7 linked regions of the Homo sapiens genome follow. The protein of the gene in region 2 purifies or fractionates together with the protein of the main gene of each other region. This does not show direct contact. Each region holds a gene or a part of one and is shown on either strand. Other genes may lie near its edges.

What was found.
Region 1: the proteins of VAPB (region 2) and MIGA2 purify together in Homo sapiens (affinity purification with mass spectrometry; 5 studies listed by BioGRID and IntAct, with this or other methods). This does not show direct contact.
Region 3: the proteins of VAPB (region 2) and ACBD5 purify together in Homo sapiens (affinity purification with mass spectrometry; 6 studies listed by BioGRID and IntAct, with this or other methods). This does not show direct contact.
Region 4: the proteins of VAPB (region 2) and TACC1 purify together in Homo sapiens (affinity purification with mass spectrometry; 5 studies listed by BioGRID and IntAct, with this or other methods). This does not show direct contact.
Region 5: the proteins of VAPB (region 2) and PITPNM1 purify together in Homo sapiens (affinity purification with mass spectrometry; 7 studies listed by BioGRID and IntAct, with this or other methods). This does not show direct contact.
Region 6: the proteins of VAPB (region 2) and PRKACB purify together in Homo sapiens (affinity purification with mass spectrometry; 4 studies listed by BioGRID and IntAct, with this or other methods). This does not show direct contact.
Region 7: the proteins of VAPB (region 2) and WDR44 purify together in Homo sapiens (affinity purification with mass spectrometry; 6 studies listed by BioGRID and IntAct, with this or other methods). This does not show direct contact.

The regions. Positions count from the first base shown.
Region 1 is NC_000009.12:129,043,126-129,046,625, forward strand, and holds part of MIGA2 (mitoguardin 2), read left to right. Parts: intron 1-3,500. UniProt on the Homo sapiens protein: Regulator of mitochondrial fusion: acts by forming homo- and heterodimers at the mitochondrial outer membrane and facilitating the formation of PLD6/MitoPLD dimers. May act by regulating phospholipid metabolism via PLD6/MitoPLD.
Region 2 is NC_000020.11:58,395,729-58,399,228, reverse strand, and holds part of VAPB (vesicle-associated membrane protein-associated protein B/C), read right to left. Parts: intron 1-3,500. UniProt on the Homo sapiens protein: Endoplasmic reticulum (ER)-anchored protein that mediates the formation of contact sites between the ER and endosomes via interaction with FFAT motif-containing proteins such as STARD3 or WDR44.
Region 3 is NC_000010.11:27,234,298-27,237,797, reverse strand, and holds part of ACBD5 (acyl-CoA-binding domain-containing protein 5), read left to right. Parts: intron 1-2,585; coding exon 2,586-2,706; intron 2,707-3,500. UniProt on the Homo sapiens protein: Acyl-CoA binding protein which acts as the peroxisome receptor for pexophagy but is dispensable for aggrephagy and nonselective autophagy. Binds medium- and long-chain acyl-CoA esters.
Region 4 is NC_000008.11:38,846,236-38,849,735, forward strand, and holds part of TACC1 (transforming acidic coiled-coil-containing protein 1), read left to right. Parts: intron 1-463; coding exon 464-584; intron 585-1,719; coding exon 1,720-1,788; 3' UTR 1,789-3,500. UniProt on the Homo sapiens protein: Involved in transcription regulation induced by nuclear receptors, including in T3 thyroid hormone and all-trans retinoic acid pathways. Might promote the nuclear localization of the receptors.
Region 5 is NC_000011.10:67,498,864-67,502,363, reverse strand, and holds part of PITPNM1 (membrane-associated phosphatidylinositol transfer protein 1), read left to right. Parts: coding exon 1-72; intron 73-277; coding exon 278-502; intron 503-1,139; exon of another isoform or gene 1,140-1,206; coding exon of another isoform or gene 1,207-1,261; intron 1,262-1,942; coding exon 1,943-2,269; intron 2,270-2,354; coding exon 2,355-2,450; intron 2,451-2,533; coding exon 2,534-2,641; intron 2,642-3,362; coding exon 3,363-3,424; intron 3,425-3,500. UniProt on the Homo sapiens protein: Catalyzes the transfer of phosphatidylinositol (PI) between membranes. Binds PI, phosphatidylcholine (PC) and phosphatidic acid (PA) with the binding affinity order of PI > PA > PC. Regulates RHOA activity, and plays a role in cytoskeleton remodeling.
Region 6 is NC_000001.11:84,147,271-84,150,770, forward strand, and holds part of PRKACB (cAMP-dependent protein kinase catalytic subunit beta), read left to right. Parts: intron 1-3,500. UniProt on the Homo sapiens protein: Mediates cAMP-dependent signaling triggered by receptor binding to GPCRs.
Region 7 is NC_000023.11:118,349,106-118,352,605, reverse strand, and holds part of WDR44 (WD repeat-containing protein 44), read right to left. Parts: intron 1-3,500. UniProt on the Homo sapiens protein: Downstream effector for Rab11 which regulates Rab11 intracellular membrane trafficking functions such as endocytic recycling, intracellular ciliogenesis and protein export.

The sequences.
Region 1 (3,500 bases), on a different chromosome or scaffold from region 2:
GGAGCTTGCAGTGAGCCGAGATTGCGCCACTGCACTCCAGCCTGGGTGACAGAGCGAGACTCCGTCTCAAAAAAAAAAAAAATTTGAGGGTTAATTTGCATGCAGTAAGATTCGTACTTTTTAGCATACTATTCTGTGTCTTTGACACATAGAGTCATCCGACCACCACCATAGTTAGGAATCATTCAGCTGGTTGGAAGGTAGTGAGTTCACTCAGTCGATTGCTCACAGTCACAGATCACACTCCTTCTGTTCTCTCTTTTTTTTTTTTTTTTTTTTGAGATGGAGTCTTGCTCTGTCACCCAGTCTGCAGGGCAGTGGCACAATCTCGGTTCATTGCAGCCTCGGCCTCTTAGGTTCAAGAGATTCTCCTGCTTCAGCCTCTCGAAAAGCTGGGACTACAGGCACGTGCCACCATGCCTGGCTAATTTTTGTATTTTTAGTAGAGACGGGATTTCGCCACGTTGGCCAGGCTGCTCTCGAACTCCTGAGCTCAAGTGATCCGCCCACCTCAGCCTCCCAAAATCCTGGGATTACAGGTGTGAGCCACCGCACCCGGCCCCGGCCATCTTTCTACTCTTTTTTTTTTTTGAGACGGAGTCTCACTCTCTGTCACCCGGGCTGGAGTGCTGTGGCATGATCTTGGCTCACTGCAACCTCTGCATCCCGGGTTCAAGCGATTCTTCTGCCTCAGCCTCCGGAGTAGCTGGGACAACAGGTGCGTGCCACCAAGCCCGGCTAATTTTTTGTATTTTTAGTAGAGACAGGGTTTCACTGTATTAGCCAGGATGGCCTTGATCTCCTGAACTCGTGATCCGCCTGCCTCGGCCTCCCAAAGTGCTGGGATTACAGGCATGAGCCAACCTGCCCGGCTTTTTTTTTTTTGAGACAGAGTTTCGCTTGTGTTTCCCAGGCTGGAGTGCGGTGGTCTGGTCTCTGCTCACTGTAGCCTCTGCCTTCCGGTTTCAAGCAATTCTCCTGCCTGAGCCTCCCGAGTAGCTGGGATTACAGGTGCATGAAACCACGCCCGGCTAATTTTTGTATTTTGAGTAGAGTTGGGGTTTCACCATGTTAGCCAGGCTGGTCTCGAACTCCTGACCTCGTGATCCACCCGCCTTGGCCTCCCAAAGTGCTGGGAGCCAGGCATGAGCCACCGTGCCTGGCCCCTTCTTCTACTCTTTTTCCCAGCTTCTCACTACTACACTTAACTAGTCTTAAAAAAAAAAAAGAACTGTTCTATCGTTGTATCACTCTCTAAATGCCCTGTGTCCTTCTGTGTCAGCTCTGGTAGCCACTGCTCTATTTTGTGGCTGCTGCTGTGGTTGTAAAAACTCTTACGGCTCCTGTTAATCTTGTAATACAGACCCGGTGTTTGCTGCATTGAAGTGTTGTCTTGATCTCTTTGCAAGGCCAGGAGTTCTCATCTTGGGAGACTTGTTTTTTTTGAAACACAGTCTCACTCTGTCACCCAGGCTGGAGTGCAATGGCACAGTCTCGGCTCACTGCAACCTCCACCCCCTGGGTTTAAGCGATTCTCCTGCCTCAGCCTCCCGAGTAGCTGGAATTACAGGCATGAGCCACCACACCCAGCTAATTTCTGTATTTTTGGTAGGGATGGGGTTTCACCATGTTGGCCAGGCTGGTCTGTGTTGGCCAGGCTGGTCTGTGTTGGCCAGGCTGGTCTCAAACTCCTGGCCTCAAGAGATCTTCCCGCCTTGGCCCCCCAAAGTGCTGGGGTTATGGGTGTGAGCCGCCGTGCCCAGCTGAAACTTGTTTTAAGAAGCAAAAGTAAGGCCAGGCGCGGTGGCTCATGCTTATAATCCCAGCACTTTGGGAGGCTAAAGCAGGCGGATCCCGAGGTCAGGAGTTTGAGACCAGCCTGGCCAACACGGTGAAACCCTGTCTCTACTAAAAATACAAAAATTAGTCGGGTGTGGTGGCAGGCATCTATGGAGGTGGAGCTTGCAGTGAGCCGAGATTGTGCCACTGCACTCCAACCTGGGCGACAGAGCGAGACTCTATCTCAAAAAAAAAAAAAAAACGAAGCAAAAGTAGCCTGTGATTTCAGCACTTTGAGAGGCTGAGGTGGGCGGGTCACCTGAGGACAGCAGTTCCAGACCAGCCTGGCCAACATGGTGAAACCCCCTCTCTACTAAAAATACAAAAATTAGCCAAGCATGGGGGTGCATGCCTGTAATCCCAGCTATTTAGGAGGCTGAAGCAGAAGGATCGCTTGAACCCGGGAGGCAGAGGTTGCAGTGAGCCGAGATCACACCACTGCACTCCAGCCTGGGCTATGGAGTAAGACTCTGTCTCAAAAAAAAAAAAAAAAAAAAAAAAAAGCAAAAGTAGACCGGGTGTGGTGGCTCACACCTGTAATCCCAGCACTTTGGGAAGCCAAGTCGGGAGAATTATTGAGTCCAGGAGTTTGAGACCAGCCTGAGCAGCATAGAGAGACCCTGTCTCTATAAATAATTTTTTTTTAAAAAGAGAAAGAACATAAATTAGCTGAGTGTGGTGGCTCATACCTGTAATCCCAGCAATTTGGGAGGCAGGAGGATTGTTTGAGGCCAGGAATTCAAGACCAGCCTGGGCAACATAGAGAGTCGCTGTCTCTGTTAAAAAAATAAGAAGCAAAAGTCTCCTGTGAAAATAAATTTTAATTGTGTATTATTGTTGCAAAAGGAAAGTATTATCTTTAGAATTGGAAAAATAAGTGTTTTGTTTTTTTTTTTTTGGTTTTTTTTTAGACGGAGTCTTGCTCTGTCGCCAGGCTGGAGTGCAGTGGTGCCATCTTGGCTCACTGCAACCTCCGCCTCCCGGGTTCAAGCAATTCTCCTGCCTCAGCCTCCTGAGTAGCTGGGACTACAGGTGCGTGCCACCACGCCCAGCTAATTTTTTGTGTTTTTAGTAGAGACAGGGTTTCACCATATTGGCCAGGATGGTCTCCATCTCTTGACCTCCTGATTTGCCCGCCTCAGCCTCCCAAATTGCTGGGATTACAGGTGTGAGCCACTGCGCCCGGCCTAGAATTGGAACAAGAAGTCTTGAGACTAATATGGAAGAGGACCCTGAGAGACACTCAGGCAGCCTAATTTTGTGTCTGTCCTGGGAAACCTGGAGTCATCTGCACAGCGTTTAGCTTCTGTGCCCTGTCCCACTCTGCCTGCTCTCATTTCACCTTATTTTCCCTTCCCTACTTTTCTCACTTCTAACAAAATATTGGCCATGTATAGTGGCTTGTACCTGTAATCCCAGTACTTTGGGGCAGGTGGATCACTTGAGCCCAGGAGTTTGAGACCAGCCTGGGTGGTATGTGGAGGCCCTGTCTCTGTTTTTTTTTTTTTTTGGAGACAGAGTCTTGCCCTGTCGCCTAGGGCAGAGGGCAGTGGCACAATCTTGGCTCACTGCAACCTCCGCCTTCCAGATTCAAGCAGTTCTCATGCTTCAGCCTCCCGAGTAGCTGGGAGTGCTACCATGCCTGGCTAATTTTATGTTTT
Region 2 (3,500 bases):
TCCCCAGCTGAAGCGGTTCTCCTGCCTCAGCCTCCCCAGTACCTGGATTACAGGCATGCACCACCACGCCCGGCTAACTTTTGTATTTTTAGTAGAGATGGGGTTTCACTATGTTGGTCACGCTGGTCTCGAACTCCTGACCTCAGGTGATCCACCCACCTCAGACTCCCAAAGTGCTGGGATTACAGGTGTGAGCCACTGTGCCCAGCCTTTTCCTTTATTTTTCTATCCCATTTCTCTTTCAAGCCTCTTTCTCTAGTCTCACTCCTCCTCTCATCTTCCTAACATAATAAATAAGAAAGCCAAGGGCACACTCCCACTTATCTTTTAAGGGAAGAAACACAGCCAGCATGACGACAAAAAAAAAAAAAGCCATAGCCTTTGCAATCAGACAGATCTTGATTCAAATCCCAGCTCCAACCCTCAGTCAGGTTCATAACTTGGGTTAATAACTTCAGGATCATAACTGTACCCACTTCCTAGGCTTGCATTAAGAATTAAATAAATGAACGCTTAGAAAAATGGCAAGCGCACAGTGTAAGCTCGCCAAGTCACATATCTCAAATGCCATCTTCCCTGTGAGATCGAACACCCAAAGCAGAATTAACACAGCTTTTTCTAAGCTCTCAATAAGGACAGGCCATAAATATCTTGTCCCCATTTTCCCTCGTCTCCCAATACCTAGAGGCTGGAAACTTTAAGGGCTAGGCCTTCCTCCCAGGTCCCCAGTGCAACCTAGTGCCTGGCCCACAGGAAGCTTTCAGTATGTGGTAACTGAACCAAATCTCAATCAGAGTCACGCTCAATTCCCCCAGAAGGAGTCATCTGTCTATAAAGAAAACCTCAAAGGATCTGCAAAGGGCAGAAACCCAAAACAGCTCTAATTTGGACAATCATCTCTTATGTACAGACAATCCCCGATTGGTTTGACTTGCGATTTTTCAATTTTACAATGGTGTGAAGCCATCATAATTTTGACATATTTTGAATTTTGATCTCTTCCCAGGCTAGTAATATGCAGTACATGAGATATTCAATACTTTATCATACAATAGGCTTTGTGCTAGATGACTTTGTGCAACTGGAGGCTAACTTAAGGGTTCTGAGTATGTTTAAGGTAGACAAGGCTATGATGTTGGGTAGGTTAAGCTGTATCTAATATGTTTTCAACTTATAATATTTTCAACTGACAATGGGTTTCTGAGGATGTAACTCCGCTGTAAGGTGAGGAACATCTGTAAGAGATCATTATATCCATGCATGTCTCTAAATCCTTTCTGATCCAATTCGTATGCCTGGCGTATCATCGTCTTGGAAAATGACGACTTCCCAAAGTGTATCTCATACAGAATAAAACAGCACTTTTTAATCACCTTAAGTTTACCTCTTTGAACAATTGAGACAAGTCTCTAGTTTATTAACTCACCCTTATTTGTTTCTCTGTCCAAGGCAATGGCTGGTCAGGAGCATGCAGAACTAAAGGTTTTGTAGCAACACTTACAAAGTTTAAGGTGGCACTGCTAAAGATCATTTATTTTAGACATTCCTATCTTAATAAGTGCCCTTTACAACTTCTTGAATTCCCACTCTACAAACCTGCAAGCCTATGAAATCTCTACCACACACAAGCTTTGCCCTGCCTTCCAAAGACTGGATAGCAGAAGGACAAATTACCCACAAGTTAATGTGTTTTGTTTTTTTTTTTTTTTGAGACAGAGTTTTGCTCTTGTTGCCCAGGCTGGAGTGCGATGGCGGGATCTCGGCTCACCGCAACCTCCGTCTTCCAGGTTCAAGCGATTCTCCTGCCTCAGCCTCCCAAGTAGCTGGGATTACAGGCATGCGCTACCATGCCCGGCTAATTTTGTATTTTTAGTAGAGATGGGGTTTCTCCATGTTGGTCAGGCTGGTCTCGAACTCCTGACCTCAGTTGATCTGCCTGCCTCAGCCTCCCAACGTGCTGGGATTACAGGCATGAGCCACCATGCCCGGCCGAATGCTTTCTAAATATATAGAATCAAGAAACCATCAGAATCTGATATAAAAGTGAATATTCACAAGAGAAATCAAACATTCTTTGGAGTCATCTGTCTGAACTTTTTCAAAAGTAGGGCAAGAAATCCCTCCTAAAAAATTCAGAGAATAACTCTTAATGAATTGATGTTCTTAAGAAATTGTCCTGACAGCTATTAATACTTCATTAATGGTTTTAAATTCTCTGCCTCCCTCTCTCAAGAACAAACCCCTTTATGAGTTAACTCTAATGAGCTGATACTGGTATGAGGGAAAGTACAAGGCTTTGCCTGTGCCACCATTTACTAGTGCAGCCTCATCCAGCAGAAAGTTACCTAGCCACTGACTAAGTCATCTCATACGATTGTTACACAGATTAAACAGTAACATAAATATGGCAAAGCACCTCTTACCACAGTTCCTAAACTGTGTGGCCTATCTTCTGGAATTAAAGCATTTATCCTCTAGAAATGTTTGTTCCTTCTTTACCTTTCTTTACCCTTATATTGCAAAATGTATGTCAGCCACTGCTTTTAACTCCAGACCCGACCCAACGGGGTGTTGGGGGGCACATTTCACCACTCACACATATGACCACTCCCAGATCCTTAGGTTCCATTTTCAATTCCCCTCCATTCTCTGAGCACCCTTCAGCCTTTCAAGACAACTCAAGGAACTTAGAGCTCTAAACCACATCACAAGGAAGTAATTTAAATCTAGGTAAATGGTCTAGGGGTACATCCCATTGTCTTAAAGTACAAGCTAAAAGATGAAAAACACTGCAGTCTCAATCTACCCCTAAAACATTTATTGCCCTAGTCTCCACTTCCCAGATGGGCAAAGGCTGAAGGAGCCTACTGAAATGCCAACAATGTAGTAATTGAAACACATTATAGGTATCGGCCAATGTGCCCTACACAACACGAGGTGGGCATGCACACACACACCCCCCAAAAGCGTGAAGACATCACTTGACACAGGTGAAAATACTAACATGCTAACCAAAGGTCAATATTAGCCCTTCTGAAAGGATGAAGGAAAACTCCAAGAAAGCATTTCTGTAGCTTTACAGTTCTATGCAATAAAAAAATGTTATTAAAAGAAAGTATTCCAAGGTTTTCTCACGGGACTATGCCATTTTCTCAACTGCTTCCCAACCCCCAAACCCCCATGCAAGGGGGGTTTGTCTTTGTCTACAAAGACAGTGTTTGTAGACATCAACAGCTTCTGTTAAAAGGATGCATTTAACAGTTTGAAAAATATTCTAGAGATAGTATTTTACCACATTCAGTTATTTTGTTTGTTTTTTAAATAATCCTCAAGTGACTGTCAAGTTTAGTAACTTTGTTTCCATACCAAAGCTCTTTAAACAACTCTTCCTTGTGTAAAGCCAGCTGCCCACATCTGTCAGGTAAGAACTTCAAAGAACGCACATACCCACTGAGCAAGGCCAAAGCAATCCTGGATATGCTATGCTGATAACAGCCTGA
Region 3 (3,500 bases), on a different chromosome or scaffold from region 2:
AATACAAAAATTAGCTGAGTGTAGTGGCGAGTTCCTGTAATCCCAGCTACTCGGGAGGTTGAGGCAGGAAAATCGCTTGAACTCGGGAGGCGGAGGTTGCAGTCAGCTGAGATTGCGCCATTGTACTCCAGCCTGGGTGACAAGAGCCAGACTCCAACTCAAAAAAAAAAAAAAAAGATATCCTATCAAATGGTACTTGTGTTGGACAACATCCAGTATACTGTTATCCCCTGAAACTAAGTTGATATTAATTGAAGCAGAAGTTTGTTATAATGGATTATAAATATTTTTGTAATACTACTTTTAAACCATTTGATTTGCTCTGAATCATTATGCAAAGAGCAAGATCTTGGAGTTTTTTGTTCCTTGTTTCTCAATCCTTATTTAAGGCCTGAAATAGTAATGAATCCTATGACATCTATGTTTGGTATGACCTTAACCTTTTAAAATTAAAATTCTTAGCTAATATTTCAAATACATATGAAGTACATCATGTGTGAGCACCTTGAGGACAGAAATCTTACTTGAGTGTCTTACACACAGACTACACTCAATAAATGTTCTCGGTTTTTGTATTTTTAATATCATTCACCTAAGCCAATAAACATATTTGGTTGACTTACTGAAGATATTTTGAGATTAGACTTTTGATGTTTTAAATTTAGATTTGTGTTATTTAAATAAGTGACCATTTTAAACTGTGGTTTCTCCATTTTTTTCCCTCTGCTTTATAAAGGATTGTATCATTAGAACACTATCTATTAGGTACTCCTAAATGTGCATATATTATACAGATAATTATTATAGTGATTTGAGAATTAATTATGCACTCTCGGCCAAACCTGAAACACTAGTTCTCAGTTTATCTCTGTGGTAATTTCCACAGCACAGCTTTTTTTTTTTTTTTTTTTTTGAGACCAAGTCTTGCTCAGCTGCCCAGGCTGTAGTGCAGTGGTGTGATCTTGGCTCACTGCAACCACCGTCTTCCAGGTTCAAGCAATTCTGTCTCAGCCTCCTGAGTAGCTGGGATTACATGCACCCACCGTCATGCCCGGCTAATTTTTGTATTTTAGTAGAGACGGGGTTTCATCATGTTGGCCAGGCTGGTCTTAAACTCCTGACCTCCGGTGATCCGCCTGCCTCGGCCTCCCAAAGTGCTAGGATTACAGGTGTGAGCCACTGTGCCCGGCCCACAGCTCTTATAAACTGCTAGCTTATGCAATTTACAAATTTTAAAAAATATCTTGTTACAATTGTTATTTTTAAAATTTTGTTATAAAGGTAATATACACTGATGTTTAAAACTTTTTTAAAAACACATAAGTGAAAAGGAAAATAATTTGTATACTTACTATTCAGAGATAGTCTTTAAACATTTTATGTTTATCTTTCTACTGTACTTTTTATGTATATAAATATTTTGCCAAAAGGTATCATATTACATATGTTGTTTTTAAACTTATTTTTCTAAATTTATAGTAGATCATGGAACTTATACCATTATTTATATTTTTCTACAATATAACTTTTTAGGGCTACAGTTATAAATTGTCCTGTTATATTTATATATCATAATTATTTAAACAGCTATTATAAAACATTAACATTCCAATTTTTCAGTTATTGAGAATACTGCAACTTATAGCACTTGCTTATACAATTTGATTTTTTTTTTTTTTTTTTTGAGACAGGGTCTTTCTCTGTCACCGAGGCTGTAGTGCAGTGGTGTGATCACAGCTCACTGCATCCTTGACCTCCCCAGGCTCAGGAGATCCTCTCTGCTTAGGCTCCTGAGTAGCTGGGACTACAGGGTGTGCCATCACACCCAGCTAATTTTTGTTTTTATTTGTAGAGACAGGGTTTTGCTATGTTGCCCAGGCTGGCCTTGAACTCCTGGGGTCAGGTGATCCACCCACCTCAGCCTCACAAAGTGCTGGGATTACAGACATGAGCCACCACAACTGGCCAATTTAAAAATTTTAAACATGAGAAAAACTATAGATATGCTAGAAACATATATGAAGAATTATCCTCAAATTGATGTCTCCAAAATTACAGAGGTAGGAAGTGAGAAATCTATTTTATCTTAGATTAATTCTTTTTCTACCATAGTGTATACTCTTTGGCTTTAGCCCCAAATTCCTTATCTACTGAGAATTTGAAATTTGGCAGAGTATACATATAACTTTTTCACTTACACTAGTCAGTTTTGATTTGTCATAAGCTTTGAATAAAAGTACCTTATTACGATTGCTTAATAATAGTTATTCTATATTTTAGTATGTTTTTAAAGAGACATTTGCAGGTTATTTTGGTTATATCTACAGCATGTCTATTCATGTATTCTTTTATTTATTGAACCATCTTAGGCATTGCTATTAAAGTTTAAAATCTCAGAGTGTTTTGAAATCAAAGAAGCAAGCAACTAACAGAACCATAACTTTTGTTTCTATAAGCTAGAAATAAATCATTATCTAAAGTATTAATGCAATATAAAATCACTATTAGTATAGCTAAGCTAATTTATAACCTGATTATCAGTTGTATTCCCCAGGTGATTTGTATTTAATGTGTGTTTCCAACAGGTTCATTCCAGCCAACAAATGAAATGATGCTTAAATTTTATAGCTTCTATAAGCAGGCAACTGAAGGACCCTGTAAACTTTCAAGGCCTGGATTTTGGGATCCTATTGGAAGATATAAATGGTAATTTTTTGTGTAGAGCTATGCAAGAATTTAAATTTTAATGACATAATTATCATATGGCTATTACTTAAGTGGTTATATATTATTCTGTGCAGAAAGTGTCCTAGGTATTGGGTACAATTTTTATCCTCCAGGTTTTCTTTTTTGTTTGTTTGTTTTTGAGATGGAGTCTCACTCTGTTGCCCAGGCTGGAGTGCAGTGGCAGGATCTCGGCTCACTGCAGCCTCTGCCTCCTGGGTTCAAGTGATTCTCCTGCCTCATCTTCCTGAGTAGGTGGGATTACAGGTGCGCGCCACCACACCCAGCTAATTTTTGTATTTTTAGTAGAGACAGGGTTTCACTATGTTGGCCACGCTGGTCTCGAACTGCTGGGTTCAGGTGGTCCGCCCACCTCGGCCTCCCGAAGTGCTGGGATTACAGGCGTGAGCCACCATGCCCAGCCTTCCCAGGTGCTCTTAGTACAATTTTACACAAATAGGAAAATCTTGGGGAGGAGAGGAAAACAGTAAAACCAAAAGGGATAGGTGCATCAAAGATAAAGAAGCATTATCAGTTAATCTTTACTTTCATGGAGTTTTCCCTTTTTTTTTTTTTTTTTTTAAGGCAAGAGCAACTCCCAACCTAAGTTAAATAAACAAACTTTTAACTGCCTCTTTTGCCTGCAAGAAAAATAATGGCTTTTCCTTGTTTGTACTGAGCCTTGAAGATAATAAATAACTAGGAATATGACTCAGGTACTGCCATGCTAACTTTTTATCTAAGCTGTCACTTCTGACCTACTGTAATTGAATAGA
Region 4 (3,500 bases), on a different chromosome or scaffold from region 2:
ACTGCGCCACTGTACTCCAGCCTGGGTGACAGAGCGAGACTCCATCTCAAAAAAAAAAAAAAAAAAAAAAAAAAAGAATGCCTTTCACATCTCATTAATAAACTCATTCCCTGTAGGCCCGTGTCTCACAGATGTCAGTGGTTAGTATCCCAACTCTAGCTGTGATCGTCTCCAAAATTATGCAGTCTGCTTTTGTACTGGTCTAAAAAAAAAAAAAAAATCTAAGACTGTTATAGAAACCATTTGCTAGTGAGATACAAATTTTGAAGTTGTCTGTAAATTGAATTTTTATAAATTAAAATGGAATTATTTAGGTCACCGATTTTTGTTTTTTTTCTCTCATGCAGTCAATTCTTTGAGGCCTGTGCCTCACAGATGTCAGTGGTTAGTATCCTGACTGGCTTTGACTAGTGGCTAATCATGTGCTTTTTGTCTCTTTATTACACCCAAACACCATAAACAGAGCCAATGAAGAGATTGCTCAGGTTCGAACAAAAGCAAAGGCTGAGAGTGCAGCTCTCCATGCTGGACTCCGCAAAGAGCAGATGAAGGTGGAGTCCCTGGAAAGGGCCCTGCAGCAGAAGGTACAGAAAGGGACCTGATCTGGGTGGCCACAGAGACGTTTGGTTTTCCTCCTCAGCAGTGACTCACTTAATGACAGATCTGGGTGAAAGAGGCCTTGGCTTTCTACTCAGACATTTCAGTCCAGCTCCTTTCTGAACTGATCCAGGTGGAAACAAACAAGTCAAACCATTAAATTTTCAAGCACATCATGTGGAAATCATCCACAGGCAGGGTGCAGAGAGGAAGTTGCATTTTAACTGAAGTTCAGAACAGCTTCCTAGTTGGGGTCATGAGACTGCCTTTCTTTCTTTCTTTGTTTTTTATGCAATATATTAATATGAAGCCATCTTCCCCCTTCATTGCTTTAGATCAGTGGTTTGCAGTTGGGGGCAGTTTTGCCCTCCAGGGGATGTTAGGTGTTAGGTAATGTCTGGAGATATATTTGTTTGGTTGTCACCACTGGGAGATGCTGCTGGTATCTAGTGCAGGAAGCCAGGGATGCTGTTAAACATCCTACAATGCACAGGACAGCCTCTGACAACACATTTACCCATCCTAAAACATCAGCAGGGCTGCTTTGAGAAACTGCTATAGATAAATGAAAACCAGGACTAGCAACAATCCCTGTTTCTCACTAAGCAATTTTTAGCTTTCCGTTTTTATATGTCTCCGGTGTATTTTCTTTACTGCATTTCCAATTATGTACTCATACCTGTGCCATCCATTCATCAAGAGCAGGAGTTTTTATCACAGGGTCTGTTAGCCCCTAGAACGGTGCTCCCTGGGAGATTCAGACTCCAGCATCCCTAGATATGCTAATGGATTGAGTGAGACCCAGATACTTATGTTTTTGACAAGTACCCCAGATAATTCCTCTGATAACAAGAAAATTGGGGAACTAAGAGATTCATGGACAAGTTTCAGAGGGCTGGTGACTGTCCTCACCCTTTACTCAATTTAAGCATGATTTTATGAGTACATTTTTTGAGGTGTGTAGCCTTTTTTTCTTTAAAGCATCTCTGATGTAGAAAAGTTAAAAATCACTGAATTAGGATGTCTAGGGTAGGGTAGATCCAGACTTGGGACTAGTTAACTCTATTTGCCTTTATTTCAGAATACAAAGTGGCCTGCATAATTATGTCATTTGTCTTTCAGAACCAAGAAATTGAAGAACTGACAAAAATCTGTGATGAGCTGATTGCAAAGCTGGGAAAGACTGACTGAGACACTCCCCCTGTTAGCTCAACAGATCTGCATTTGGCTGCTTCTCTTGTGACCACAATTATCTTGCCTTATCCAGGAATAATTGCCCCTTTGCAGAGAAAAAAAAAAACTTAAAAAAAGCACATGCCTACTGCTGCCTGTCCCGCTTTGCTGCCAATGCAACAGCCCTGGAAGAAACCCTAGAGGGTTGCATAGTCTAGAAAGGAGTGTGACCTGACAGTGCTGGAGCCTCCTAGTTTCCCCCTATGAAGGTTCCCTTAGGCTGCTGAGTTTGGGTTTGTGATTTATCTTTAGTTTGTTTTAAAGTCATCTTTACTTTCCCAAATGTGTTAAATTTGTAACTCCTCTTTGGGGTCTTCTCCACCACCTGTCTGATTTTTTTGTGATCTGTTTAATCTTTTAATTTTTTAGTATCAGTGGTTTTATTTAAGGAGACAGTTTGGCCTATTGTTACTTCCAATTTATAATCAAGAAGGGGCTCTGGATCCCCTTTTAAATTACACACACTCTCACACACATACATGTATGTTTATAGATGCTGCTGCTCTTTTCCCTGAAGCATAGTCAAGTAAGAACTGCTCTACAGAAGGACATATTTCCTTGGATGTGAGACCCTATTTTGAAATAGAGTCCTGACTCAGAACACCAACTTAAGAATTTGGGGGATTAAAGATGTGAAGACCACAGTCTTGGGTTTTCATATCTGGAGAAGACTATTTGCCATGACGTTTTGTTGCCCTGGTATTTGGACACTCCTCAGCTTTAATGGGTGTGGCCCCTTTAGGGTTAGTCCTCAGACTAATGATAGTGTCTGCTTTCTGCATGAACGGCAATATGGGACTCCCTCCAAGCTAGGGTTTGGCAAGTCTGCCCTAGAGTCATTTACTCTCCTCTGCCTCCATTTGTTAATACAGAATCAACATTTAGTCTTCATTATCTTTTTTTTTTTTTTTGAGACAGAGTTTCGATCTATTTTAAGTATGTGAAGAAAATCTACTTGTAAAAGGCTCAGATCTTAATTAAAAGGTAATTGTAGCACATTACCAATTATAAGGTGAAGAAATGTTTTTTTCCCAAGTGTGATGCATTGTTCTTCAGATGTTGAAAAGAAAGCAAAAAATACCTTCTAACTTAAGACAGAATTTTTAACAAAATGAGCAGTAAAAGTCACATGAACCACTCCAAAAATCAGTGCATTTTGCATATTTTTAAACAAAGACAGCTTGTTGAATACTGAGAAGAGGAGTGCAAGGAGAAGGTCTGTACTAACAAAGCCAAATTCCTCAAGCTCTTACTGGACTCAGTTCAGAGTGGTGGGCCATTAACCCCAACATGGAATTTTTCCATATAAATCTCAATGAATTCCCTTTCATTTGAATAGGCAAACCCAAATCCATGCAAGTGTTTTAAAGCACTGTCCTGTCTTAATCTTACATGCTGAAAGTCTTCATGGTGATATGCACTATATTCAGTATACGTATGTTTTCCTACTTCTCTTGTAAAACTGTTGCATGATCCAACTTCAGCAATGAATTGTGCCTAGTGGAGAACCTCTATAGATCTTAAAAAATGAATTATTCTTTAGCAGTGTATTACTCACATGGGTGCAATCTTTAGCCCCAGGGAGGTCAATAATGTCTTTTAAAGCCAGAAGTCACATTTTACCAATATGCATTTATCATAATTGGTGCTTAGGCTGTATATTCAAGCCT
Region 5 (3,500 bases), on a different chromosome or scaffold from region 2:
ACCTGCCTGATGGGGGGCAGCAGCCAAACGTCTTCAACCTGAGCGGGGCCGAGAGGAGACAGCGCATCCTGGGTGAGGCCTGGAGCTATGGGGGGACCCTGGCGCCCCTCTCAGGCTCCTGGCTGCCTCAGTGGGCAGCCTCTGAGAAGTCCCAGCCCTCTCCAGGCCTCATGTCCTGTCTGCAAAAGGACGGGAACTGTCATCCAGTCCCAAGAGGGTGCCAGGAGCGGGGGCTCAAAGGGGCTGGCGCTGCTCAATGCTTGCCGAACTCCCTCAGACACCATCGACATCGTGCGGGATGCAGTGGCCCCAGGCGAGTACAAAGCAGAAGAGGACCCCCGGCTTTATCACTCGGTCAAGACGGGCCGAGGGCCACTGTCTGATGACTGGGCACGGACGGCGGCACAGACGGGGCCCCTTATGTGTGCCTATAAGCTGTGCAAGGTTGAGTTCCGCTACTGGGGCATGCAAGCCAAGATCGAGCAGTTCATCCATGATGTAGGTGAGCACCCAGCTGCGGGAGGTCCCACTTACCCAGCATGCCCCAGACCCCATGTTTAGGGCCAGGGATGCTCCCATCCACTGGGGACACAGAAGCAGAAAGCCATCGTTTCCATTTGAGGTGGGGAGCACTAGGGCAGAAGCGGCCGCACAGCCTAGCCAGGCATCCACAGAGCAGGAAGCTGGTAACATGATCTACAAGGTCCATACTGGCTCTGACATTCAGAAATGCTGCTGCTTCCATTAAGATTCTAAGATTCTCCATCATCCTATGAGTTAGATGAGACTTAGAGACACTCAGGAAGGTCACCGGCTCTAACTGGCAGCATGCTAAGGAGTGCAGGCTGAGGCTGTGACTCTGATGTCATTCTCTCTGGGATTCCCCACCTCCACTCCCAGTTTCTAGTGTTCCAGCCTTTGGCCCTGGTGTTCAGGAGCCCCAGTCCCACACCTCCCCTCAACCTGACCCCACCACGCCTACAATTCAGCCCTGCCTCAGTGCCCAGGTCATCTGCACACAGAGGGATGGTCCCTAGTTGGAGAGACCAGCGGCCTGGCTTCTGTCCCACTACTGACCCCCACCCCATGGTACCTCCAGCAAGGCACTGGCCATCTCTGCACTTTAAATTTCTCTTCAGTAAATGAGGAAGAGGTTGAGTCAGATATGAAGAGCTAATACTGACAGTGATTGCGACACACAGACCCATGGCTAATTACTTTTTGTGCAAGATCTCCCTTAACACCCACAACACCCCACCAGGTAATGACGATGATTATTCCCATTTTACAGGTGAGGAAATTCAGCTTAGAGAATAATGAGGACGCCTTGTCTTGCATTTGGAAAAATGCCAAAAAGCACAAATAAGAAAAATATAGCCACTACTAAGATTCCAATATATCTCCTCGCAGAAGTTTATAATTATCATTCAACCATCATTACTTTATTTCCTAGACATTTAAGAGTTTCTAACTTTTTCTTCTGCTTAAGATAAAAATATCCCAGAATGGGTATCATCTTTCGCTACAACCTTCATTGAGTGCCAACACTTCCATTAACTGTTAACACCTTCATTAACCATCAACAATTTCATTAACTGTTAAACCCTTAATTAACTGTTAATTCCTCAGAAGTCAGCAGGAAGCCAGCCAAAAGCAAGAACAAGCATTGGTCCCTGCTTCTGGAGTGATGGGGTGGGGACAGTGCTGAGAGTTAGGGTGTGCAGAGAGACAGGAAAGGCAGTGGGCGGGGGGGAGTCAGGCAGGAAGACAAATGCCCCACTTTCCACTCCCATTCCTGGACTGCACTGGCCCTGCCCTACTTTGTGGCTCTGGGTGGGTGGTGTCCCCAGGGGAGCCATTATCCAACCTCAAGGCTGGGCATGTAGCTGCGGTGGCAGGGAAGCAGGGGGAGGGGGCAGTTCTGACGCCTGGGCACCTGCAGGTCTGCGTCGGGTGATGCTGCGGGCCCACCGCCAGGCCTGGTGCTGGCAGGATGAGTGGACAGAGCTGAGCATGGCTGACATCCGGGCACTGGAAGAGGAGACTGCTCGCATGCTGGCCCAGCGCATGGCCAAGTGCAACACAGGCAGTGAGGGGTCCGAGGCCCAGCCCCCCGGGAAACCGAGCACCGAGGCCCGGTCTGCGGCCAGCAACACTGGCACCCCCGATGGGCCTGAGGCCCCCCCAGGCCCAGATGCCTCCCCCGATGCCAGCTTTGGGAAGCAGTGGTCCTCATCCTCCCGTTCCTCCTACTCATCCCAACATGGAGGTGAGGCTGGGGCACAGGGATGGGAGGAACGGCCCTCCCCAGGCTGGGCTCCTGGGCTGAGGCTGAGGCTGAGCTGGCCCGGCAGGGGCTGTGTCTCCCCAGAGCTTGTCTGAGTGGCGCATGCAGAACATTGCCCGAGACTCTGAGAACAGCTCCGAGGAAGAGTTCTTTGATGCCCACGGTCAGCACTGAGGCCCTTTTTGGGAGTGGGGATGTCCCCGAGCAGCTCCTCCCACCCCATGACACAGCCCCCTGTCCCCTCAGAAGGCTTCTCGGACAGTGAGGAGGTCTTCCCCAAGGAGATGACCAAGTGGAACTCCAATGACTTCATTGATGCCTTTGCCTCCCCAGTGGAGGCAGAGGGAACGCCAGGTAAAGATACCGCCTAGGACACCGGCCCCCAGCACCCGTGTACAGCAGGTCATGAGTTTAATGGCATCTTAAGATGAGAGGCAATCTGAAGAGGTGCTCATTAAATACATAGACGAATAATGAATGGTGGATGGATGGATGGATGGATGGATGGATGGATGGGTGGATGGATGGATGATTAGAATGTAGTCATGATTCAGACATAGCACTAAGAATGAAGGAATTAATTTGGACTCCCTGAATGCTTCACTTGAGAGGTGATGTCTATGCTGGCTTTGGAGGACTTGGGCCAGCACTGTCCAGCAGAACTTCTAGGTCCATGCTGCCCAAGGCAATAACCACCAGCCACACTGGCTCCCAGGCACTGAAAATGGGGTTAGTGTGACTGAGGAACTGAGGTTTTTATGTATTATATTTTAATTCATTTAAATTTAAATGGCCACTTGTAGCTAATGGCCACCACATTGGACAGGGCAGGGTTAGAGAAGTTTGCCAGGCAAACAGGCATTGTGTGGAGAGGCAGCCCTGACTGCAATAAGACCAGTAGGAGCAAAGGCCTGGAAATACAAACTGACCTGGGAGAGTTGGTGGGAGGAGAAGTTTGGAGGAAGGTAGGGACTGGGGGCCTCAGGCAGATGCCAGAACTGGGGTGCCTGAAGTGCCAGATGAGGGGATCCCAGTGGTCCTCTCCGTCCCTCTCACTGGCTTCGTTGCCCTGCAGAGCCTGGAGCCGAGGCAGCTAAAGGCATTGAGGATGGGGCCCAAGCACCCAGGGACTCAGAGGCGAGTATGGTCAGCCACCCCATGTCAAAGCTCCCCCTACTCACTGGCCCGGCCACTGCTGTGACACCCACTGCAC
Region 6 (3,500 bases), on a different chromosome or scaffold from region 2:
TGTCCTCTAGCAAAATCATAAAGTGGTTACAGTAGACCACTTCAGTCAGTTTTACCTTTGCAAATTTTATACAATCTCTCAGACAGTTTACCTCCTATTTGTTAGCCCATTGAATCTGTATCATTTTAACTTCTCAGCTAAAAGACTTTCCACCTTTGTCTTTTTATCAGCTTTTTCCACTTGAAACTATTCCATAAGCTTCTTGATAATAGTCAATTTCTACTCATTTGGTAAAACTTTTTTGAGTATTTACTATATCATAGTAAGTAAGCAAGTTTCCAGGAAAAATAAGATCTAGTTCTTACCCCCAAAAAGAAGAGCAAACATAATATAATATTCAAGGCATAATGAAATAGTTGCTTTAAAATGTCTAAGCTTACTGTGGAAGCTAAGTGTAAGAAAAAAGTTGTTACTAAAGAGAAAATGGGGGACTTCAAAAATATTAAAGAATGAATAGAATTTTGAGACCTAGAGAAGAAGGTTATTTTAAGAAAATAACATACACAAGTATTTGAAAATATGAACATTTAGAACTTACTTAAAAGGTTTAGTAAGATACTGTCTAGAAAATTAGGTTCTGGATTTAAACTTTAAAAGTTTTCTATTAGACATCCAGAATTTTGTACTACGCTGTATTAGTGGGGAGCCAATGCAGTTTTTTAAAGTGGAAAATAATATAATGCAACCTTTGTTAAAAGAGCCTAAAGATTTTAACTAGCATAATACAGGATAAGTTAACTTACTTTACTACAGAGAAATGTGTATAGCTACTATACATCTTCCGTTTTTGCTGGGCATTTAATTAGAACTAACGCTTTTGACGTGACAGTCAGCATGGCAATGAATAGTCAGATAATGGATTCCTTTTACAACAGTGCTTGTTCAAGTTGCTGCTTCTGTCTGGAATTCTCTTTCTTCACTTCTACCAGTGGTGAGATTTGCCCATACTTTAGGCATCCTCTCAGGTATCATCTCTGTAACAAAACCACCAATGTATCCTATTCATCTATCCTTCATCCTTCTTAGAGTCTGTGCTCTTCCTTATGTTCTTATATCATCTTATACTTAACTTTTATTGTGGTTTATTTATAGTATTTATATGGTATAGTTTGTATACTATATATATTATAGTTTATAATATTTAAAATGCATTACTATTAATCCTTATGTATCTGTCTCTCATGTTTGATTTTGAACTCCTTGAAGGCAAATAACTTGTCAGTTTATTTCAGTATTACTAGCATAATTTTCAATAAATCTTGAGTTATTTGTTAAATTAACATTAAACATCACTGCAGTATTACACAAATGAGCTTCTTACTAATTTGTGCTATTGTGATCTTTGCAATTTATTTTAAAAGCCCATGGCCATTAACCAAAAGCAGTCAAATGCTGACCTGGCTCTAGTAAATACCAATTTTCAGTGTTACCTGTGTATTTTTATCATGATTTCCAATAAAAATTTAAGTAACAAGCAGACTTTATAGTAAAACTAAAATAGTTGGGATATTAAATGATGTTGAAATCAGGAAATCATTCCATGAGCCATTTAGCAATGCAAGTACTATATCAACTGTACTAACATAACGAGAAGCTTTTACTTGCTTGTGCTTTGCAAAAATAGCCATATGACAGAGTTAGAAGACAGCTTGCTACTCAAAGTGTGGTCCCTGTCCAGCATTATTAGCATCTCCTGGGAGCTTGTTAGGAGGAAGAATCCCAGGTCCCACCTAGACCTACTTAGTCAGAATCAGCATTTTAACAAGATTTCCCAGCTGATTTATATGCACATTAAGGTGTGAGAAGCACTTTTTCCCTAATAACATTTTAATATGATTTCCAAATGTATATCTTCACTGGAGAAAATTTTGAAACTACAGGAAAAAACAAAAAGGTAAAAAAAAGTATACATAATTCTGCCAAAAGGTAATGACTGTTAATTTTTGTATATATACTCTATTTTGTGTATAGACACACAAATTTCTACCAGCTCCAATTTTTTTTTTTTAAACAGAGTCTTACCGTGTCACCCAGGCTGGAGTGCAGTGGTGGGATTTCGACTCGCTGCAGCCTCTGCCTCCCAGGCTCAAGCGATCCTCCCATCTCAGTTTCCCAAGTAGCTGGGACTATAGGCATGTGCCACCATACCCGGCTAATTTTTTGTATTTTTGGTAGAGGTGGAGTTTCACCATGTTGCCCAGGTCGATCTTGAACTCCTGAACTCAAGTGATCTGCCTGCCTTGGCCTCCCAAAGTGCTGGGAATACAGGCCTGAGCCACTGCACCCAGCCCAGCTCCAGAATTTGGATCTTTCAAAACATAATGTTTAGTTAACATTTTTCTTTATAAAGAGTTGTTCTACAATACTATTTTGTATTAAATCATAAGGATATACTATAATTTATTTAACCAATCATTGGCCATCTAGGCTGTTTTTAATGTTTTGCTATTAAAAAATGCCATGATAAACATCTTTATAACTAAATATTTGTACATATTTAGGATTATTTTTATATTTTATAGGATTAATTTGAAGAAGTTATGACCATTTTAAGGCTTTTGCATTAAATTAATTGAATCCCAGATAAACATGCATATCTTTTTGGAGTTAATTATTATAATAATTATTTTTTCATAGATTATAGCACTTGAGAATGTGTGAAAATAATTATATAGCTACTATCCTTAATGATATTTTTAAAAACAAATTTAAGGCCAGGTGTGGTGGCTCACGCCTGTAATCCCAGCACTTTGGGAGGCTGAGGTGGGCAGATCCCTTGCAGTCAGGAGTTCAACAACAGCCTGGCCAACATGGTGAAACCCTGTCTCTACTAAAAATGCAAAAATTAGCCAGGCTCCATCTACAGGTGTGGTGGCGCACACCTGTAATCCCAGCTACTTGGGAGGCTGAGGCAGGAGAATCACTAGACCCCAGGAAGCAGAGGCTGCAGTGAGGTGAGATTGCACCACTGCAGTCCAGCCTGGGTGACAGAGTGAGACTCTATCTCAAAATAAATTAAAATAAAATAAAATAAAGAAAACACATTTAACATTGTAAAATTTATTCTCAAAACAGTATATTGATATTTTTAAAAATTAAAAATATAATGGCCCATTATACTTCCTTCTGTTACAACTACCAGGGTCATGGTAAGAACATTATATGTTTGTCCCCTCCAAATCTCATGTTGGAATGTGATCCCCAGTGTTGGAGGTGGGGCCTAATGGGAGGCGTTTGGGTCATGGGGGAGGATCTCTCATGAATGGCTTGGTGTCCTCCCAATGGGTAATGAGCTGGTTCTTGCTTTATTAGTTCATGCAATAACTGGTTGTTTTTTTAAAACAAACATGGCACTTCCCCCTCTCTCTTGCTCCCTCTCTTTGCCTGTGACATGCCTGCTCCCTCTTTGCCTTCTGCCATCATTGAAAGCTTCCTGAGGCCCTCATCAGAAGCAGATGTTGGCAGTATGCTTCTTCTACAGTCTGCAGAACCATGAGCCA
Region 7 (3,500 bases), on a different chromosome or scaffold from region 2:
GTTAGACAGTAAGTCTAAAATACCAATAATTAGAAATTATTTTCTGTTTAAGACCACCACTATACTTCACATCCTAAAACTATTTAGGTTTTTAATATTTTTTAAAATCAAGGGACAGGTGCAGTGGTGCATACCTGTAATCTCAGCACTTTGGGAGGTCGAGGTTGGGTGGATCAGTTGAGCCCAGGAGTTTGAGACTAGCCTGGGCAACATGGTGAAACCCCATCTCTACAAAAAAAAAAAAAAAAAAAAATATATATATATATATATATATATATATATATATAAATTAGCTGGGCGTGGTGGTGCACATATGTGGTCCCAGCTACTTGGGAGGCTGAGGTGGGAGGATCACCTGAGCCTGGGGAGGTCGAGGCTGCAGTGAGCTGAGATTGCACCATTGCACTCTAGCCTGGGTGACAGAGTGAGACCCTGTCTCAAAAAAAAAAACAAAAAACAAAAAACAAACAACACAAATTTTATCTGTCCTATCTTATGAAGTAGATTATCACAAGAAGAGAATACAGTTTCCAATTTACAGGAGTTTATACAGATTCAACTTGAGCCCCCAAATTGCCATGCCACTATGGACTATCCTACCCCCATGAGTTACCAACTGACAGTCAGATGTCACTAAATATAAATTGTTTATTTATTTATTTTTGAGACGGAGTCTTGCTCTGTTGCCCAGGCTGGAGTGCAGTGGCATGACCACAGCTCACTGTAACCTCCGCCTCCCGGGTTCAAGCGATTCTCCTGCCTCAGCCTCCCAAGTAGCTGGGTGTGTGCTACCATGCTCGGCTAATTTTTGTATTTTTAGTAGAGATGGGGTTTGACCACGTTGGCCAGGCTGGTCTCGAACTCCTGACCTCAGGTGATCCACCCGCCTCAGCCTCCCAAACTGCTGAGATTACAGGCGTGAGTCATGGTGCCCGGCCGGATGTCACTAAATTTAGAACTTGAATTTACTAACTAATATGTAGAGGGTTGTTTTTTCTCACTTCAATATGATGTTACATGAGTGCGATAAAACAGCATTTGTAAATATACTTCTATCACTCCTTAAAGCCTTCAGTAATCAAATTTGTGATCAAATGTCAACTCATCAACAAACAGCCATTTTTAAGGAAACTTCCCTAAAGTAATAAATATTGCACAGGTATTTTTTAAATTAAAACTTGTATCAATTTTCAATTCAGAGAGAAATGTTTCTGACACCTAAGTAAAGTGAGAAGCTGAGTTTTCAACAAAGGCAGCTACACACCTTTTTGTTTTTCAGACCTAACAATTATTCAGGACAGTTTGGTCTCAGTTCCCATGACTTAAGATTTTATCATTATTCCTATCTGAATATGGTAGATTGCAGTTAATACTAACTAAATGCCTAAGAATAAAATAATACAAATAATCACTGTTCTTAGACAAGCTATTTTGCCATTGTTTTTCACTTTCACTTGGAAAAAACTCGTAAGCAAAACTTAGGATTCTAAAATAGTTCAAGACCTCTGATAGGCAAGGTATGAAGAAACAGTCAAGTAAACCATCTTAAAAGCCCAGCTAATAGGGTAAGTGCCAGAAACCTATGGCAGGAATAGCCAGCAATACTTTCCCTTCTTCCGCAGACATGGTAGCATGGTATAAGTGAGGAATCAAGAGACCTGGGCTCTAGTTCCAAGTCTGCCCTTATTAGCAATGTGTCACTTCCCCTCTCAGACCCTAAATTTCACTTTCAGTTAAAAGGGAAGGCTGGGCTAAAATGATCTCCAGTCCCTTCCTACTCTAAAAATGTTATGATTCTATCCTTCTTCCAAGGCCTCAAAAATATTTTGGCTGCCACTAAAAAAAAGAGTGCTGAAAATGTTACATTTATTTTTACAACATGTTCTCAGTGCCAGCCTTTAGTATGTGTAAGTATAAACCACATGAGTTAGCAGGGGCATTCATCTCATATATAATTTACCCAGTAAATACTTAATTTCAAATTTATGGGTCTTGAACTATGTACCAAATACCATTAAGTTAAACGAAAAGATTAAAAAAAATCACGAAAGATTTACCAAGAACAAAAGCTTATCAATACAAGCACACTATTAAACCTCAATATAAAGACATTTAGAGTTGGAAGGGTTCTCAAGAGTGTAATCCCCTCAATTTAAAGATGAGGAAATAAAATGACTCACAGTGCAGGGCTCTTTTCTAGTGTACCACACGATTCCTCTTCTCTTTCCTGCTCTATCAAAAGACAGCCCAGTAGCAGAAAGAACGCCAGACAGTCAAACTGATCCGGGTTCTAGACCTAGCTCCACCATTAATTTGCTGTGGCAGCTTTTACAAGTTGCTTTCTCTCTCTAGGTTTCAGTTTTCACAACATTTTACACGAAGGAGTTTAACTAGATGTCCCTTCTAGCTGCAACAGGCTATGATCTTGCAAAATTCCTATCTGACAAAACAAAAATACACGTTGCTGAAAGAAAGTGGAATTTCTTGCCAAGAGAACAAAAAAGTTTAGGCTGCTGGTTTTAATGGAGATGTATCAGTTCAATTCAGCAACTTGGTCCTAAAGCATTTTACTCCAGAATTTACCAGGGGAGGATCTCTGTCCACCTCTCTGTCACTGCTCTCATCGCCCTCCACAGGAAAAAAAAAAAAAAATACTGGACTAGGAGTCTGAAGAGCTGGTTTCAAATCCCAGTTCTGCCACTTAAAAGCTCTCTCCTAGGACAAATTCACTTAACCGTCTCTGAGTCTAAGGTTCCTAGGCCAGGTGCGGTGGCTCACGCCTGTAATCCCAGCACTGTGGGAGGCCGAGGCGGGCGGACCATGAGGTTAGGAGTTCAAGACCAGCCTGACGAACATGGTGAAACCCCGTCTCTCCTAAAAATTAGCTGGGCGTGGTGGCGCACACCTGTAGTCCCAGCTACTCAGGAGGCTGAGGCAGGAGACTCTCTTGAACCCGGGAGGCGAAGGTTGCAGTGAGCAGAGATCGTGCCACTGCACTCCAGCCTGGGCGACAGAGCGAGACTCCATCTCAAAAAAAAAAAAAAATGTTCCTCATATGTAAAAATGAAGATAAAAATGAGAAAACCTGGGCCTGGCGAGATGGCTCATGCCTGACAGTAATCCCAGCGCCCTGGGAGACTGAGGTGGGAGGATCACTTGAAGCCAGGAGTTTGAGACCAGCCTGGGCAACATAGCAAGACCCCATCTCTAAAAAAACCTTTAGCTGAGCAGGGTGGTATGCACCTGTGGGAAGATAACTTGAGCTTAGGAGTTTGATGCTGCAGTGAGCCATGATCTCACCACCTCTCCAGCCTGGGCAACAGAGTGAGACCCTATCTTGGAAAAAAAAAAAAAGAAAAGAAAAAAGAAAATAAAGAAAACCTGACCTAAAATATCAATAAAAAAGCATTATAAATACGGCATATATTGCAAAGCTGGGCAAGTGAAGATCATCTGCCACTGTAGAAAAGTAGGCTGTACTGGAATTAAAAGTCTCTAAA